Linked DNA regions of Homo sapiens. The protein of the gene in region 1 purifies or fractionates together with the protein of each later gene. This does not show direct contact. Each region holds a gene or a part of one and is shown on either strand. Other genes may lie near its edges.

Region 1 (3,572 bases):
GAATCTGAACATGGGAAGCACTGCAGTTTAGTAGTCCTGGTCCCTAAGCCCTTCCAGCCCAGGAGCCAGACCTGTGAGCAAACAAGCCTTTAGTGATTCCAGGCTCTGGCTGGAACCTTGAGTCTTCTCAGCTTGGGGCATGCACCTCAGGGGGAGCCAGCATCAGTGTCCAGCCCCAAGAGCTTCCCTGTACGTCTCAGTGAGTCTTCACATGCCTCCAACTGCCTGGACAACCACACGTGATACCTGTCCTGCCAAACGTGTCCTGAACCCATAAAATCCAGAGAAAAGAAAATCGTTTTAAACTGCTGAGGTTTGGGGTAAGTTACTATGAAGCAGTAGTGAGAAGAACAGAAGGGCCATGATGGGGAGAAAGTTTGGCCATAAGTTAATCACTGTGGCAGCTGTTAGGATATTGATGTGGCTTGGCTGTGTCCTCACCCAAATCTCATTTTGAATTCCCACATGTGGGAGGAACTGGGTGGGAGGTGATTGAATTATGGGGGCAGGTCTTTCCTGTGCTGTTTTCGTGATAGTGAATGAGTGTCACGAGATCCGATGGTTTTAAAAACGGGAGTTTCCTGCATAAGCTCTCTCTCTGCCTGCTGCCATCCATGTAAGATGTGACTCGCTCCTCCCTACCTTCCGCCGTGATTGTGAGGCGTCCCCAGCCATGTGGAACTGTAAGTCCATTAAACCTTCTTCCTGTGTAAATTATTCAGTCTCTGGTATGTCTTTATTAGCAGCATGAAAACGGACTAATACAGATAGATGTATTATACTGTTACCCCTACTACTTCTGTATATGCTTAAATTTTTGCATTACAAAATTCACAAACATACAAACATTATAGAGAACTAACATCACAGATTTACAGTCACCTTATTCCACAATGTTGGAAATTCTACCACAAATAAAGAACTTGAAAAAAAAGGAGGGGATGTTAGAAGGAAATCTGAGCGACCTAGACCTGGGCTCAGTCACGCCTGAGACAGTCAGATGGGGTATCTGAGGATGAGTCAGTGTTAATTTTCTCAGACCTGGGCTCCGTCACTCCTGAGACAGTCAGATTGGGTATTTGAGGATGAGTCCGTGTTAATTTTCTTAGATGTGGGAATGCTATTATAGTTACGCTAAAACACAATCCCTATCTAATAAATACACTGCAACATTTATGGGTAAAATCATATGTCTGAAATTCCTTAAAGATACTCAGAATGCCAGGCATGGTGGCTCATGCTGTCATCCCAGCACTTTGGGAGGCCGAGACGGGTGGATCACTTGAGGTCAGGAGTTCGAGACCAGCATGGCCAACATGGTGAAACCCTGTCTCTACAAAAAATACAAAAAAATTAGCTGGGTGTGGTGGTGCACACCTGTAATTCCAACTACTTTGGAGGCTGAAGCAAGAGAATAGCTGGAACCCAGGAAGCAGAGGTTGCAGTGAGCCACGATCATCCCACTGCACTCCAGCCTGGGCAATGGAGTGAGACTCCATCTCAAAAAAAAAAAAGATACTCAGGAAAAAAACGAAGAAAGAACAAGATAACAAAATACTGATTGAAGCTGAGTGCTCTATAGGTGCAGGTGCTCATTCACTATTCTATTTTCTTGTGTGTTTGAACACTTTTTTTTTTTTTTGAAATGGAGTTTCCTTCTTGTTGCCCAGGCTGGAGTGCAATGGCATGATCTCGGGTCTCAACTCACTGTAGCCTCCGCCTCCCAAGTTCAAGTGATTCTCCTGCCTCAGCCTCCCAAGTAGCTGGGATTACAGGCGCCCGCCATGACGCCCAGCTAATTTTTTTTGTATTTTTAGTAGAGATGAGGTTTCGCCACGTTGGCTAGGCTGGCCTCAAACTCCTGGCTTCAGCTGATCCACCCGCCTCGGCCTCCCAAAGTGCTGAGATCACAGGCGTGAGCCACCGCACCTGGCCTCCCAGAGCGCTGGGATCACAGGCGTGAGCCACCACGCCCAGCCTGTTTGAACACTTTTGTGACGTTTTGTTGTTTGTTTGTTTTGAGATGGAGTCTTGCTCTGTTGCCCAGGCTGGAGTGCAGTGGCACAATCTTGGCTCATTGTGACTTCCGCCTCCCGGGTTCAAGCAATTCTTCTGCCTCAGCCTCCCGAGTAGCTGAGACTACAGGTGTGCGCCACCATGCCTGGGTAATTTTTGTATTTTTAGTAGAGACGGGGTTTCACCATGTTGGTCAGGCTGGTCTCAAACTCCTGACTTTGTGAACCACCCGCCTCAGCCTCCCAAAGTGCCAGTGTTACAGGTGTGAGCCACCACGCCCGGCCTGTAACATTTTCATGAAGGTAGAGTATACTTAATTGCAAGAAAATTTTGAAAAAGAAGAGAAATGGAACACTTCTATTGGCTATTAAAAAATACCATGCTGAGTGAAAAAAGCCAATCCCAGAAGGTCACATGCTGTATGATTCCATTTCTTTTTTTTTTTTTTTTAGGCTGGAGTGCAAATGGCACGATCTTGGCTCACTGCAACCTTGGTCTCCCGGGTTCAAGCAATTCTACCTCGGCCTCCGGAGTAGCTGGGACTACAGGCATGCGCCACCATGCCCAGCTAATCTTTGTATTTTTAGTAGCGATGGGGTTTCTCCATGTTGGTCAGGCTGGTCTCAAACTCCCGACCTCAGGTGATCCGCTTGCCTCAAACTCCCGATCTCAGGTGATCCGCTTGCCTCGGCCTCCTGAAATGCTAGGATTACAGGCGTGAGCCACCATACCCGGCCGTGATTCCATTTCTGTAACATTCTCTGAATGACAAAATTATAGACAGGGAGGACAGATTGTTGATTGCTAGGGCCTTGGCGTTGGGGTAGGGAGTGAGGGGGTCTGTGAAGGGCAGGGCTTTGGGGTTGGGGTAGGGAGTGGGTGTGTCTGAAGGGCAGCAGGAGGAAGATGGGATTGTTGGTTTTGGTGGTGATTGATTAAATGGCGTAGCTGTACATACACTCATAGTACCGGAGTCCATTTCCTCGTGTCGATAATGGTACTATAGTTATATAAAACGTTCGCTTTGGGAGCCAAGCACAGTGGCTCACGCCTGTAATTTCAGAACTTTGGGAAGCCTAGGCAGGCAGATCACTTGAGCCCAGAAGTTCAAGACCAGCCTGGGCAACATGGTGAAACCTGATTTTTACAAAAAAGACAAGAATTAGCTGGGTGTAGTGGAGTGTGCCTGTAGCCCCAACTAATCAGGGGCCTGAGATAGGAGGATCCCTTGACCCCATGAGGTTGGGGCTGCAGTGAGCCAAGATCGTGCCACTGCCCTCCAGCCCCGGCGACAGAGTAAGACCCTATTTATGCTTCCTAGCAAGGAAAGACAGTACACATATTGAAGAATTTGACTGCGTTAAAATGTTAAACCTCTCCCCAAACTCTTATAAACAATTGTAGAACAAATGATAAGCTCAAAAAAATATTTACATCTATGAGAGGCCAAAGAATATCAGTTGACTCTGGATCAGGGGCTCGGACACGTTGCTGTGGAGGCACACATCTTCCTGGAAGGCGGTTTGGTAACAAGGTGGCAGGACTCAAGACAGCCC
Region 2 (3,572 bases), on another chromosome or scaffold:
TTCTATTTTAATATAATTTATATTTAAAATATATGCTTTAATTTTTAAGTTCTTACAGTGAGGATGCCATATATTTAAGCTGTCAAAACAGCTTGTATTTGTACTCTTTTCTAGTGTTGTGGGCCATAATACATATATACTCATGGGCAGTATAACATTTGCCTTCTTAATTTTCTTTTTAAAAGTTGTTGTATTTAATTTATTTTTATTTTTAATTTTTTGAGATGGAGTCTCACTCTGTCACTCAGGCTGGAAAGCAGTGGCGTGATCTCAGCTTACTGCAACCTCCGCCTCCTGGGTTCAAGCGATTCTCCTGCTTCAGCCTCCTGAGTATCTGGGATTAGAGGTGCGTGCCACCATGCCCGGCTTATTTTTGTATTTTTAGTAGAAGTGGGGTTTTTACCATGTTGGCCAGGCTGGTCTGTAACTCCTGACCTCTAGTAATCTGCCCACATTGGCCTCCCAAAGTGCTGGGATTACAAGCGTGAGCCATTGCGCCTGGCCCGTTGTATTTAATTTAAAAAATATATTTGTAATTATTTCTATAAAGTCATGATCAAAATTACTTATGTGTATTAGTCAGATATTTTAAAGGAATGAAAATGATGTAATTTAGAAGAAAATAGCTTAAACCTGTTGTTTCAAGAATTTATATAAGAGACCTGACACTGAATTTTTATGGATTACTTACAAACTAATGTAAACATTTCTTTTTAGTTATTCTTTCTCTTTTAAAGTGTTGATAAGTGAATTTTGTTAGCTATTTGGTTGTTAAGTAAAAACTGGCTTATTTGCTCAAACTTGCAAAGTATCTCTGGAAGAATATTTAGGAAACTGGCAACGTTGCTTTCAGAGAAAGGAAATGGATATCTCGGGGTGGGAAGGGAGGGAAACTTTGAATTTTGAATACCCTTTGAATTTTTGAGTCATGAACTATTAGAAATAAAGTAAATTAAAATTTAACAAGAAAAATGAAAATGAAAGTACTTCGGTTTACAGAACAGAGGTTGATTGAACCTGTCTGGTAGAACCTCCGTGATCAGCTTAGCATTGTCAGTCCTGAAATAATCTTTTGTGACCTCCATGATCAGCTTAGCATTATCCGGCCTGGAATATCTTGAGACTCAGCATACAGCGGATGTATGTAATGGCAGGTGCAAACAAACAGAAAGGTAACCAAATACAAGTATTTATGCTGTACTTACTCTATTAGAATAAATTAGTTAACATAATATATACCTCTTTTTATCAAATTGGAAATTAAACTATTGGATAACTGTTAGATTTTTTTTCCCCCCTATAACTATTAAAATTTTTTTTAAAATCTTGCTACTGCCCATTAGAAAGGATTTGGGAACATTTTTAAAAAATTCTTGCTTCCTTTTTTGTTTGCTTTTAGTTGATGCGGATGAAATTAAAAGGCTAGGAAAGAGATTTAAGAAGCTTGATTTGGACAATTCTGGTTCTTTGAGTGTGGAAGAGTTCATGTCTCTGCCTGAGTTACAACAGAATCCTTTAGTACAGCGAGTAATAGATATATTCGACACAGATGGGAATGGAGAAGTAGACTTTAAAGGTAAGAAAGTAGTTATTTTTTATAACCACAAGTTATCTAACCTATTTGTATTCTTACAGCTCTGTGTAAAAAAAAAAAAAAAGTGCTTATATTCCTAGTGACCTTACAATAATAGATTATGTTAAAACCTCAGCGTCTGTGGCATATACACCTTAATGAACTAGGACATTTTACTCTGTGGTTCATAAATGATTAAGTCATTCTTTAGGATAATCTACCAAAAAGCAGGGGGGACTCAGTATTTCCTTTCTTTTTAGAAAATTAATCTCACTTTAGGGCAATACTGTATATTCTTATATACATTAGAAGCTGCAATTCCTTTTATTTATTTATTTAATTTTTTTGAGATGGAGTCTCGCTCTTTTGCCCAGGCTGGAATGTGGTGGTATAATCTCGGCTCACTGCAGCCTCCGCCTCCTGAGTTCAAGCAATTCTCCTGTCTCAGCCTCTTGAGTAGCTGGGATTACAGGCATGTGCCACCACACCTGGCTAATTTTTGTATTTTTAGTAAAAACGAGATTTCACCATGTTGGCCAGGCTGTGGTCTCGAACTCCTGACCTCAAGTGATCCACGTGCCTCAACCTCCCAAAATGCTGGGATTACAGGCATGAGCCACCGCGCCAAGCCAGTTTTTTTTTTTGTTTGTTTTAACAAGTAAATAAACATTTCACAAGGGATTTGTCAATAGATTTTATTTTAGTTTGGACAATTATAAGTGGAGGGATATAAAACTGATTATGATTTAGTGCTTATCAGGCAGTGAAGAAAAATGATCATTTGTCATGAAACTTCTAACAGCATATTTGATTCACAATTTTGAAACAGAAGGCTAAAGTTTTTTGTGTGTGTCAGAACAATTTATAGTGGGTTTTTTTTTAAAGCCCCTTGTTACAGTCATATTCTAAGAGGGAAGAGTTAAACAACTTAAATAATATGTTTTGAGTGTTCTTTTATCTTGCACTTAACAAATGTTTGTTCAAATTGATTGACCTTAGAGAACTCCAAGTTCAAATAAAAAAAATACAGAGAGACCTTGTTTGTTGAGGTTTCAAATTTGGCAATTTTATTTTTAAACGTTGCTAGTAGTACTTCTGTTTTGCAGCAAGGAAATATCCTTTTGTGGGTATGTAAGGTAAATATGTTTTTTGTGTAAAAAATTGGAAGTTCTGATTTGTGAACATTTTTAACTCTTATTCAGAATTCATTGAGGGCGTCTCTCAGTTCAGTGTCAAAGGAGATAAGGAGCAGAAATTGAGGTGTAAGTATTTTTCTTCACTGACTTCATTCTCTTATACTACCATCATTTCATACTGTATTATAGAATGCTTTTTAAAATAATGAAAAAGATGTCTTTTATTCCAGATCCTTAGACATAACTGAAATTTTACATTCTGGTGAAAATCCTTTTAGGACATTTCCAACTACTATATTTGAATAATGTGTCATTGCTGCTTTTAGTTGGATAGAAGGAAAACAGTTTCTTTCTGCTGAAAACAGCCATGTAAAACTACATATGTAATTTAGAGAAGAGATTTTTTTAGTGAAAGTGGGAAGAAATGTTCTAAAGAACCGGAGAGGTTGGAGTTGTTACTATATCCAGTTTTATCTGTGTAGAAACTGAAGCTTAGCAGGGATAGTTAACCTACTCTAAGCTCCACCAAATCTGCTCAGGCAGTCTCAAAAGCCCGTACGTTTAACCAACTATGTTAAACTGTGCCTAAGGACAACTCTATTTTAAGGAAGGAGACATCCTCATAGTCATAATTTTGATGTTTGTCAGTTTACTATTTTCTTTCTTACTGAAAGCATTTACTTGTGATTGCTTTGTAATTGGAATTGATTTTCCTTCCTTTTTTTTAGTTGCTTTCCGTATCTATGACATGGATAAAGATGGCTATATTTCCAATGGGGAACTCTTCCAGGTATTGAAGATGATGGTGGGGAACAATCTGAAAGATACACAGTTACAGCAAATTGTAGACAAAACCATAATAA
Region 3 (2,826 bases), on another chromosome or scaffold:
TTTAAGAACTTATTAGAGAGCTATGTCTGAAGTCTGTTCTGCAATATCTGTTGCTGAATAATAACTCTTTCAAAGCATTAATGCTGAGTTTATATAGTTCAAAAATTCTAATATTCATTCAGTTTTAATACCTAAATACTTATATTTTACTAGTGATGGCATTCTAATATATTAAGTCCTCATTTAAATACTTGATACTTTGTTAACTGTGGCATTATATTTCTGAATTTTAAAACCTTTAATATTGGTAACTATTGCATATTCTTTTAATAAAACATGCAGCATATTTTTTTATAAAAGGAAAAGAATTCATTGTTTATATCTAGAGAGCATAAAGCCTAAGTTAAGTAAGTTATTAAACAATAACTTCACAAGATGTTCAAATCGATTTATCACTGAAAGAAGATCTATGAAAATGTGTTTTGACCAAACTTAGTATTAGGCAGGTACACAGATAAGATTTTCCATTCTTAACATTCTCACTGTAATGCACGACATTTGAAGCACCTGGATGTGCTATCAATCAGGTGGGAAATTTAGCATTATATATTGGAAGCATTGAGAAACATTGGTCTTTCATTTCTATTTTTTTTTCCCCTCCTTTCCTCCTCCTGCCCCACAATATATTATTCATCTGGTTTTAATGCTACATAAATATGCATTGTCTCATGCCTGTTTGTGTTGGATGCCTTGTGCTAAGCTGTAACAAAATGTTGCTTCTTTTGCTGTCTGTATACAGCTGCTTGCTTTAAATTAGTAGATTCTGAAATAGCTTTCCTTGCATGTCTAAAATAAAAGTATTGCATGTACTTCGTCTCATGTGAATGACTTTTTCTTTTCCATCCCTCATAAAATAACGTTTTATATTTTCATTTTTCTAGGCAAATTTTTTAAATTGTGGTTAAAAACACATAACACAGAATTCACCATCTTACGCAGTTTTAAGTGTACAGTTCAGTTGTGTTAGTTAAGTTTATTCACATTGTTGTGCAGCAGATCTGCAGGACTTTTTCATCTGGCAGAACTGAAACTCTATACCCATTAATCAACAATTCCCCATTTCTCCCTGTCCCCCAGCCCCTGGCAACCACCATTCGACTTTCTGTTTCTATAAATTTTACTACTTTAGATAGATAATAGTTTTTCTGGGTAGTTTTGAGCTACAATTTCAGTGTGAACATGTGTAAGTTCCATTTTATATTATCACCACAATTTATTTTAAAACTCTACCTGTGCAAGTCTCACAAGAATAAAATGTGTAAATAATTCTTTGAAACTAGGCCTTTTAGAAAGGACACATATTTTCAATAATGCATATTTGATAAGCAGTATGATTCTCTACAGGAAATGCTATATAAGATTGCAGGCAGTGAGCACATGGGGAAAAGTCTGACCAGCTCCACGGAGTAGCTGTGGGGCATTTTTACATGGAGAAGCTGAGAATGTAAACTGTAGAATTCAATGGAGGCATTATTTAATTGATACATTCAAGGCTACATGAACCTTTAAACTACTTAACATTACATGGAAATAATTATTTTAAATTTTTCTTGAATATTTATGAGATTTAGATGTCATTCTCAGTGTATTTAATGCTTAAGGCTAAATATAAATGAAAGGGATTGGCTTACATCACTCTTGGGTGTTACATCATTTCCACTGGACTTTCTTAAAAAACTTTATCATGAAAACTTCAAGACTCACGAGTATAGGAAATAGTATAAAGAACCCTCGTGTACACATCACTGAGCTTCAAGAACCATCAACTTAATACTGTTTCCCCAACCACTCCCCGCATTTTTGCCTCAGTATCTTAGAGCAAGCCCTAGACATCTTGTCAGTTTGTCTTTAATACTTCAGTATGTGTCCCTAACAGATAAAGTACCATGCCCCACAAAATTAACAGGAATTAATAATTACTATCTTATGCCTGGCTCAATTTTTCCTAATTGTCTGAAAAATGCCTTTTTATATTTGGTTTGTTAGAATCAGATTCCAACCAAGACTCTCACATTGTATCTGATTGATGTGCGTTTTAAGTCTCTTTTAATCTTTAACAAATCGTCTGCTTTTTCCCGCCTTGCCATTTTTTTTTTTTAAAACGAGGTCATTTATGCTGCAGGATGTCCTACCTTATGGATTTGGCCATCATACTCATATGGCAATGTTTAGCTGTTCTTATATCCCTCATTTCTATTTAGATCTGTAACCTGACTAGATTGAGGTTCAATTTGAGGGGGCAAGAATACTTCATAGGTTAGACTCTTTTTAAAAAAATACCTTTTTTCGCTAAAGCTGATTTTTACCCATTTTTATTACTATGCAGACATACTAAAAGGTCATCATATGAGCTTTATAAGTAGAATTGGTGTATAGTACTTGCGTTTAATAATAAATGCTAAATCATTTCGATTTCAATTGTGTAACTATATCACCTAACATTTTTGAAGCACTTTCTATAAATTAGGCAGAGCCTTAATTCACTTAATCTCAACATATGAAGGTAAGTACTATTATCCATGTTTTCCAAATAAGGAAACAGACCATAGAGTTTAAGTAATTTACTTAAGATTACACCATGAAGTGCTTTACATGCAATTAATATTCTAAAGATTTATGGTTTAATATAATTTCTCTTCTCCTTGCTTTGTGCTGTACCATGATTAGGATGCGAAAGTAAGTTTATTACTGGATGCCAAAAATTTATATTATTTTCCATCATTAAAATATAGTGTTGCCTTTTAATTACAAAATTCGTTGCTAGTAATACCTGAAAGTTGGCCTCCTTGGTCCTTTATTTTGTGATTTGCAAAATCAGCCACTTTG
Region 4 (3,572 bases), on another chromosome or scaffold:
TTGGGGAGGAGGGTCTATTTTCCCACTGGTTGAATGAGGGGGTTGCACCAACAACATGATCATGAAGATCTCTTCCAGCTCAGATTCTATTCCTTTGTCCTTCCAACTGGATGCTAAGGGCTACTCCTTCAACTCCTCTCCCACTCCACCAGCTCTCCAATCCACAGGAGTGGTAAGACCACCAAGGGGACAGTGGTAAAACTGTGCACCCCAGGAACTGTCTTTGGATCACCTACCTGCTTTATGTGACTTTTTCTACCTACCTCTCTGTACTTCATTTCCAGACACTGAAGACGCTCATTCTGAAAGAGTAGCTGAAACGGAGTGACGGGAAAGAAAGACCCAAGGGTAGAGTTTCACTTTTCCCCAGAGCAACCTGAATGAAAACCCCACTAAGATCCCCAGTTCATCCCTCAGATCACAGCTTTATTCCCCAACTTCCAAGTTAGGGGTTGGACAAGTGTAAGGCAAGTGCAGTTTGTGAGAACCTGTGAATGTATGGGAAATAGCAGGAACAGAGAGTGAACCTGGCTCATCTGGGGAATCAGGAGTAGGTCTGGAGCAGTGGGGTGCATGGAAGATGAGAGCATAAACGAAGTCTAACTCCTCCTCCCAAGCTTACCAACCTCCATCTCACTGGATCATTGACTAAGATTGGCGAGAATCTGTGGTGCATGAAAAGGCCATAGTGACGAAGTTAGAGGAGATGATGCCCCATGACACTAACAGGCTGTGTCTGGTGTGATGTGAAGCTTAGGTGTGAGGAAACACTGCCATTTGTAGTGGAAAGAGCACCTGAACAGTAGCCCAAACACCTGGGTTCTTGTCTGAGTGCTGCCATTTATGGGCCATGTCATTTTGGACTAGTCACTTCTCCCTTCTGAGCCTCAGTTTCCTCATCTACGAAATGGAGGGGTTGGCCTGGAATCTAGATTCTAGATGATCCTTAAAGTCCCTCTCAGCTTGGCCATCTGCTCACCTTCCTTCCTCACTGGCCTATCTTCTATTTCAAGGCAAGACCTCTCCAGGGCAGGAGCTCCATCTCCCCCATCCAAGGATCTCAGTAATCAGGGACTCTCCTGGACAGGGAAGCCAAGGAGCTCAGAAACAGTGGCAAAACTCCCCTGTTGCTGACTGCCAGTCCCCAGCTTGAGCCCCAGAGGCAGCCCCAGAGCCCCATAGAGAACCAACTTGTGCCTTCATCAGCTTTCTGCCTCTCCTAACGCAGACAGGAGGCCCTGGCACCCCAGCCTTCCCTCCCATACAAACCCAGCACCTAGAGATGTGGAACTATGGCCCCTTTCCTCCTCCTGTCAGAAGCACAAACATCCTAGTCTATTCAGAGAGACCCTGAGGCATGAAAGGTCTCATGAATCTTTATTCCCCTCATGGAACCCTGCCTCAAAGCCCACCCTACCCTCCACACTGTCCCCTTCCCCCACCTTCTGCAGAGTCTATCCCCTCCTCAGGCTAGATCATCCTGGCAGGTGAGCTGTGAAGAGGAAAAATGAGTAAATCTCTCAGTTTGGCTCGACTGGGATATTAGATGTCAGTCAGTCCCAGGGCTCAGAAGCATCTTAACCTGTGAGGAAGAGGTCCACAGCCTTCTCTATCTTGGGATTTGAGAAGCTCTAGAAAGCCCCCAAAATGCCTCTCCCATCAGCCTCTCCAACTTCCCATGGTCTCACAGCATGGTTTCATGATTCGTATCATCACAGGACGTTAGAACCAACTGAGACCCCTTCATTTTACAGATGCGGACAGAAGCTGAGGCCCAGAAAAGGGAAGTCTTATGTCCAAAGTCACACAAGGAGCAGCTGAGCTGGGACAACTCCCCTGGTTTCCATTTCCTTCACCGTAAAGTGAGGGCATATAGCCTAGATGGGCTCTGAAGGCCCTTCCAGCCTTGCTCTACAAAAACAACCACCGTATGTGCAGTGTCTAGTGCCAAGCACTACATGATGTTCTTTAATTTTCACAACAAAGCTATGCTACAGATAGTGTTCATTCTGTGACCGTGTTCATATCCTGTCTATCTGAATAGATTGGGTGGTAACACATCATTTGTTCCTATGTAAAATATCAACCCAGCTGCCAGTTGGCATTCTCCCACTCATGTCAATTCCCTTGGGATTCGAAAAGGACCTTGCTAAGGTAACCCTTAGGAAAGGGAATGTTTTAGGCTGCACCATCAGCTGGTCCCTGAGTGGGAGTCCACATTTTAAACAGGTTTCTCATGAAGTCACCCAGTGAAGACACTGTAAGTCTGGAGGTAGGGGACAGCAATCAGAGGCCCTTTGGTCACTGCACAGTTCCTTTAACTGCAACCCTAGGCTGGCCTGACCCAGCTGCTGCAGGAAGGGGAGGGGCCATGGGAGGGGGTCAGAGCCCACAGCAGGACTGTTGCATAATCCTTGGGGCCTGGCCTTGGGCAATCCACCCTGGTTCTGAAGTTTGTGCTTTGTGTCTGGTTCCTTCCTTTTCTGCCTTCTCTCCTGCTTTCTAGCTCTGGGCTTTCCCAGCTCCGAAGTCAATACTGAGATCCCAGATGTGTCCAGAGACATCCTGAAGAGGCTCGGGGGTGGAGGAGCCTTAGTGTGTCCACAAAGGGACTCCTGAAACTGACTGAGAGCCAGTGGATTTGCCAGCAGTCTGGTGAGTCTTCCAGATTGAGATTTCCCTCCCTCTCCCTGTCAGTTAAAACCCCTTTCCAATGATACCTAAGAAAACTGAATGGTAACTGCCCTGCCCTGGGATGGAGCTTGGGACGACTAGGAGCTTTCACCTTCACTGTATGTGCTGCGTCCATTCTTTTTTTTTTTTTTTAAACCTATGTGTACATATTTGCTTCTTGAAAATAAAAAAAAAGTTTTTAATCCTCTTCTACATAATACAAGTATATGCTCATAGCAAGCCTTGAAGGAGGAGGGAAAGGATGATCATCTTTCTTTGTGGGGTTTTTTGTTTGTTTGTTTGTTTGTTTTTTGAGACAGAGGTCTTGCTTTCCTGCCCAGGCTGGAGTGCAGTGGTGTGATCTCGGCTCACTGCAACTTCCACCTCCTGAGTTCAAGCGGTTCTCCTGCCTCAGCCTCCTGAGCAGCTGGGAATACAGGCGTGTACCCGGCTAATTTTTGTATTTTTAGTAGAGACGGGGTTTCTCCACGTTGGCCAGGCTGGTCTCGAACTCCTGACCTCAGGTGACCCACTGGCCTCAGCCTCCCAAAGTACCGGGATTAAAGGAGTGAGGCACCACAGCTGGCCTATTTTTTAAAATTGTGCTTAAAACACACACACACACACACACACACACACACACAAAACATAAAAATATACCATCTTAGTCATTCTTGAGTGTACACTCAGTAGTGTTAACTAGATTCACCTTGTTGTGCAGCAGATCCCCAGAATCTCCTCATCTTGTAAAATTGAAACTCTATACCTACCATACAACAACTCCATGATAATGTCTTTTGGTAGATGAGGAAACCAAAGCCCACCCAGGGAAAGGAACTTATTTCCTTCAGAGTAGGCTCATCAAGACACTTACACTGTTTGTTTGTTGTCTACCTATG

What was found.
Region 2: the proteins of SPATA33 (region 1) and PPP3R1 purify together in Homo sapiens (affinity purification with mass spectrometry; one large-scale study listed by BioGRID and IntAct). This does not show direct contact.
Region 3: the proteins of SPATA33 (region 1) and AP1S2 purify together in Homo sapiens (affinity purification with mass spectrometry; one large-scale study listed by BioGRID and IntAct). This does not show direct contact.
Region 4: the proteins of SPATA33 (region 1) and KCNE3 purify together in Homo sapiens (co-immunoprecipitation; one large-scale study listed by IntAct). This does not show direct contact.

What each region holds. Positions count from the first base shown.
Region 1 is NC_000016.10:89,660,792-89,664,363, forward strand, and holds part of SPATA33 (spermatogenesis-associated protein 33), read left to right. Parts: exon of another isoform or gene 1-717; intron 718-3,572. UniProt on the Homo sapiens protein: Plays an important role in sperm motility and male fertility. Required for sperm midpiece flexibility and for the localization of sperm calcineurin to the mitochondria. Promotes mitophagy as well as acts as an autophagy mediator in male germline cells.
Region 2 is NC_000002.12:68,186,518-68,190,089, reverse strand, and holds part of PPP3R1 (calcineurin subunit B type 1), read left to right. Parts: intron 1-1,399; coding exon 1,400-1,576; intron 1,577-2,775; coding exon 2,776-2,835; intron 2,836-3,437; coding exon 3,438-3,572. UniProt on the Homo sapiens protein: Regulatory subunit of calcineurin, a calcium-dependent, calmodulin stimulated protein phosphatase. Confers calcium sensitivity.
Region 3 is NC_000023.11:15,828,042-15,830,867, reverse strand, and holds part of AP1S2 (AP-1 complex subunit sigma-2), read left to right. Parts: exon of another isoform or gene 1-809; intron 810-2,667; coding exon 2,668-2,676; intron 2,677-2,826. UniProt on the Homo sapiens protein: Subunit of clathrin-associated adaptor protein complex 1 that plays a role in protein sorting in the late-Golgi/trans-Golgi network (TGN) and/or endosomes.
Region 4 is NC_000011.10:74,461,038-74,464,609, reverse strand, and holds part of KCNE3 (potassium voltage-gated channel subfamily E member 3), read left to right. Parts: exon of another isoform or gene 1-348; intron 349-1,754; exon of another isoform or gene 1,755-1,928; intron 1,929-2,477; exon of another isoform or gene 2,478-2,506; 5' UTR 2,507-2,655; intron 2,656-3,572. UniProt on the Homo sapiens protein: Ancillary protein that functions as a regulatory subunit of the voltage-gated potassium (Kv) channel complex composed of pore-forming and potassium-conducting alpha subunits and of regulatory beta subunits.